2 separate regions of the Homo sapiens genome follow, and region 2 is linked to region 1. Evidence: fine-mapped expression QTL. Tissue or cell type: whole blood. Region 1 holds a variant in brackets; the other region holds the start of a gene. All regions are shown on one strand. Distances are from middle to middle.

Region 1 (2,679 bases):
TGGTAGTTCTTGGTGATCACTGGCTTGCGGCGGCGTCACTCTGATCTCTGCTGTCCTCGAGAGACCTTCCTCCCTGATGTCTCTCCCCTCTCTTCTGAGGACACATGTCATTGGATTTAGGGCCTACAGTAATCCAGGATGATCTCAACTCGAGATCCTTAAGTGAGGATCAGAGATGTGAAGCAGCCTGCCCCAAGGAGGCTTAGCTGGGAAACAGCCGAAGAGTAAAACCTGAAAGGCCACAACAGGTGCCTCATGACAGCGGTCAGATGCTTTGTGGCATGGCCAGGGACCCGTGCTCCAACCAGGAGTCGCCACAGTCTGAGACTCCCCTCTACAGCGGCCAGCCATGCTGCCCACCCGACTGTGCAGAGGTGGTAGGCACCAGGCACACCCCTGCAACCTCGGCTGATAAGGCCCCTGCCTTCTGGGGGACCCTGAGATGCTGGGGAGACTGGAGACTCTGGGCCATCCCCAAACCACTGCTGTCACTTGAGGCTTAGCATTGCAATGCCTGGGCATCCCTGAGTGCCACCGTGAGCCTGTGTGTCTCGTGACACGTGTGCAGATGTTATTCCCGGCACAGATACTGAAGGGCGATGCGTGCACTCAGCAGCCAGGAGGGTTGCAGGGCCAGTGGTGAGAGGACCAGGTTCTGGCTCAGGCTCACACTCTGAGGCCCCCAAAACCCAAACCACGAACCAGGCAAGGCTTCATTCTCAGCCACAGGGGAGGCCACGCCCACCAGCACCTGCCCGACGCCGGGGTCCACCTCCAACAGGTTTCTGGCGGTGGGAAAAAGTGGAAGATGCAGGCCAGAGGAAGGATGCTGCCTGACCGACCACAGCCAGCTCTGCCTAGCAGCCCCGAGAGCAGGCAGAGGAGGGAGCAGGAAGAGACCACAGCTGATCCCAGCCTTCCTGGCCCTGACGATTTCACCTTCCCCATCCAACCTTTGAATGAGAAGCAAAGTGGGCCAGGCACCATGGCTCATGCCTGTAATCCCAGCGCTTTGGGAGGCTGAGGTGCGAAGATTGCTCGAGCCCAGGAGTTTGAGACCAGCCTGGGCAACACAGCAAGACTCCCGTCTCTACTAAAAATAAAAACATTAGCTATGTGTGGTGACACATGCCTGTGGTCCCAGCTACTTGGGAGGCTGAGATGGGAGGATCACTTGAGCCTGGCAGTTTGAGGCTACAGTGAGCCACGATTGTGCCATTGTACTCCAGCTTGAGCAACAGAGCAAGACTCTGTCTTTTAAAAAGAAAAAAGGCAAAGTACAGAGGCATTGCCTGTTATCCCTGCTGCCAACGGGTCTGGCCCTCAGAAGGGATGGGTTGCCAGATGACGCAGGTGGGCCCCTCCTGGCCTTGCACAGGGTCCCCCCTC[C/CT]TTTTTTTTTTTTTTTTGAGACAGAGTCTCACTCTGTCACCCAGGCTAGAGTGCAGTGGTGTGATCTCGGCTCATTGCAACCTCTGCCTCCCGGGTTCAAGCGATTCTCCTGCCTCAGCCTCCCGAGTAGCTGGGACTACAGGCGTGCACCACCACACCCAGCTAATTTTTGTATTTTTAGTAGATACAAGCCTCAGGCTTCAGGCCTCTAGAGCCACAAGAAAACGAATTTCTGTTGTGGTTTTTTTGTTTTTTTGGAGAGTCTCACTCTGTCACCCAGGCTGGAGTGCAATGGTGCAATCTCGGCTCACCACAACTTCTGCTTCCCAGGTTCAAGCGATTCTCCTGCCTCAGCCTCCCAAGCAGCTGGGATTACAGGCATGCGCCACCACCCCCAGCTAATTTTTTGTATTTCTAGTAGAGGCGGGGTTTCACCATGTTGGTGAAATTGGTCTCGAACTCCTGACCTCAGGTGATCCACCTGCCTCAGCCTCCCAAAGTGCTGGGATTATAGGCATGAGCCACCTCGCCCGGCCCCAACGGACCCATCTTCAAGTGTGTAATTCAATGGCATCAACTCCATTCACGATGTTGTGCAACTGTCACCTCTATTAATAGTTCCAGAACATTTCATCATCCCAAACAGAAACTCTGTACTCATTAAGCAATATCCCTCCCACCCTCCGCCCCCCCGCCAGTCCCTGGTGACCCCAAATCTTCTGTCTGTCTTTGTGAATGGCCTGTTCTAGAAGTTGCACAGAAGTGGAAGCACACACCACGTCCCTTTCTGTCTGGAATTCCTCAGTTAGCATAACGTCCCTGAGGTCCATCCACGCAGTAGCGGGTGTCAGATTTCCTTCCTTTTCCAGGCTGAACCCTGTTCCACACGTGGCTAGACCACAACTTGTGTGTCTGTCCACTCATGGGTCGACGGCACTTGGGTGCTTCCACCTCCTGCTGGCCGTGACCAGGGCTGCTGTGGACTCTGGCGCTCTCGTCTGCACCAGCTGCTGCCTTCAGTTCTCTGGGGTCTGTAGCCGGAGTGGCATCGTTGAGTCACGTGGGAATCCTGTGCTCTGCTTTTTTTCTTTTCTTTTCTTTTCTTTTTTCTTTTCTTCTTTTCTTGAGACAGAGTCTTGCTCTCTCACCCAGGCTGGAGTGCAGTGGTGCGATCTTGGCTCCCTGCAACCTCCACCTCCCGGGTTCAAGCGATTCTCCTGCCTCAGCCTCCCAAGTAGCTGGGATTACAGGTGTTCACCACCACGCCTGGCTAACTTTTGTCTTTTTAGT
Region 2 (2,679 bases), 31 kb before region 1:
TTCAGCATGTTGGTCAGGCAGTTCTCGAACTCCTGACCTCAGGTGATCCACTCGCCTCGGCCTCCCAAAGTGCTGGGATTACAGGTGTGAGCCACCACCCCCTGCCAAATGTGCGGTTTTTGTGAAACGCAGATCTTAGGTGTATAACCTGGTGGATGTTTTTAATCACCTTGCAACCAAGGTCCCTATCTAGTGTCGAAGCCTGGGAGTGGTGAGTTGTGTGCTTCTGAAGACAGGTGCAGTTGGGTCAGAGTTTTTAAAAACACGATAAAATGTAAAAATACGGAGTCCCACCGTTCCCTTCCGATTCTGGAGGATCATTTTGCTTTGTTACACTTTGCTTCGGTATCGAGTTTTTGAGTGTGGGGAACTTTCCGGCCCGGGCTGACAAGGGCTGCCAGGGCCAACGCCGTGCGCTTCTCATCCACGGATTCTCTACGGGAACTGCGCCGGGACCCAGAGGGTCGCCCCGCCCGCGGCCGCCTGCACCCGCCCAGCGAAGCCCTGCCCCGGCGGGAACTTTAACCAGGACGACCCAGCCAGACGCCCCCTCTGCGGGGGAGGCGAGGGCGGTGATCTCCGGGCCCACCGGACTCACCTGTTTGAAGCAGAAGGGCATGGTGAGGACACTGACCCCTACGATGCTGTTCACGATGTTCGTGATCAGCCCCCAGTTGGAGGCGGCGGCCGCGGTCATAGTGAGAGGTCTAGGGGCCCGGGGCGAGAGGCCTCGGGGGTCGCCGGGCTGCGGCCGGCTTTGGAAGCCCAGCCCGAGGCCACGGTCACAGGTCCCAACGTCCGGGACGCCGGTGGGGAGGGGATGGGCAGCCTGAACACGGGAGCCTGAGCAGGCGCGGGCGCGGGCCCCAGAGGCTGCCTGGAGGAGGCAGCCTCGAAGGCCGGCTGCGGGGGCGAGGTCAACCTCCGGACCCCGCCAAGCCCTGCGGCCGCCTCAGGGCCATGCGTCCCTCGCTCGGCCTCGCGGGCCGCCTGTGAATCTCCGAGCCCAGACCCGGAAGAGCCGCAGAGCCAGCTAGGGACACCTCAGCCCAACTCAGCTGCCGCCGCGGCGCTCACACTTCCGCCTTCCACGGGCTCCGTTGCCCGGAAGTGACGGCCAGGGGGTAGGGTTTGGTGGGACGCGAGCCAATGAGAGGCGGGCCCGGAGGGGCGGGCGGAAACTGGGCCGGTGGGCACCTGAGGGTCTCGCAGCTGTCCGGTTCGCCAAGCTGGTCCAGCCGACCTGTGCCCGGGGCCCCAGTTCAACGAGCTGGAGGACAAGGGACTCGCCCCGCGAGGCCTCGGTTTGGATGGGCAGTCGCGGGCTGGAGAGAAGGGGAGGCGCTGTGCCTTCCGGGGAGGAGCGGGTTTAAGGGTTCCTTTTTGACCTTTATTCCCAGGACCGATTCTGGGGCGAGTGCTTGGCGCCAGGGCACGGGGGCGGGGGCCCTGACTGCCTCAGCCGAAAAATAGTCTGTTGTGAGGAATTAGCACCTAGGAGGTAGGAATGAAACGCTGGGCACAGAGAGGCTCGGCCACTCCGCTAAGGCCACACAGCTCCAAGGGGAGGCGGTGCCCTGCCGAACTGCGCCCAGATCAGTGGCAATGTTGAACTTCACCTTTTCACACGAAAAGAGCAAGGGACATTCCTGGAGGGGACAGGAGAGGTGGAGGCTTACATGAACAGGGAAACCCGGGAGGGCTTCCAGAAGGAGGTGGCTTCTAGGCTGGAGCTTGAAGGACAAATGAGAATTCCTCGGGTAGAAATGGAGACCGGGGAGAGGAGAGAACAGAGAAGGGTCCCGATAGATCTGTGGATTCCTGGCACCTAGCTGCTCACTCTGAGTCTAATGAATGAGCGCGTAGACCGAATGGCTGGGAAGCAGCAAGTGATTCCAGGCTGCTGGGGGAGGACGGCGGAGGAAAGGAGGCCGTGTCTGCAGCACCTGCAGGACCAGGTGTCTTAGAACAGAGGCCCGTTCCTCAGGCACTGGCAGTGCAGCCACCAAGTAAGGCTGTGCCCCACCTTCAGGAGAACAGGAGGAAATGCCTGGGTAAAGACTAATTAAATACGCAGGCAAAATAACAAATGCCTGCGTTCTTTTTTTTTTTTTTCTTCAGTCAGAGTCTTGCTCTGTCGCCCAGGCTGTATATGCAGTGGTGTGATCTTGGCTCACTGCAACCTCCACCTCCCAGGTTCAAGCTATTCTCATGCCTCAGCCTCCCAAGTAGCTGGAATTACAGGCTCCCGCCACCACACCCGGCTAATTTTTGTATTTTTAGTAGAGACCAGGTTTCACCATGGTGGCCAGGCTTGCCTCAAACTCCCGACCTCAGGTGATCCGCCCACCTCGGCCTCCCAAAGTGCTGGTATTACAGGCATGAGCCACCGCACCCAGCCCATTTACTTTTATATAAATGAAATGGCATACACATTCCATAACCTCCTTTTTATTATGTAATTTTCATCAAATGTTATGCATGCGAGGTAGGCTGGGCAATTTACATGTATGTTTTCACAAATAGCAAATACCATGGACCCGCTATTGAGCTTTAAGAACAAAATATTACCGAAGACTTAGATCCTCCCTTTCAGTTCCTCCCCAGTTCCAGCACCTTCTTCCCCTCTTCCCTGCTATCCTGAGACATCACAATCCAGATTCCATCAATTCATTACTT

The links. PIP is the estimated chance that this variant, and not a neighbour inherited with it, causes the effect.
Region 2: SLC38A10 starts here. The variant in region 1 is fine-mapped to the expression of SLC38A10 in whole blood (INTERVAL, PIP 0.97).

Annotation. Positions count from the first base shown.
Region 1 is chr17:81,325,086-81,327,764 of GRCh38, forward strand. All of the region lies in intron 1 of TMEM105 (TMEM105 long non-coding RNA), which reads right to left. Among named protein-coding and RNA genes, the nearest start is that of TMEM105, 4.2 kb to the right of the region's middle. The variant C/CT (reference allele first, on the strand shown) is at 1,390.
Region 2 is chr17:81,294,225-81,296,903 of GRCh38, forward strand. It overlaps SLC38A10 (solute carrier family 38 member 10), which reads right to left and starts at 1,083. Exons shown (of 16, transcript NM_001037984.3): 1 at 599-1,083. The coding sequence starts at 697. RefSeq lists silencers at 559-628, 729-998 and an enhancer at 1,659-1,748.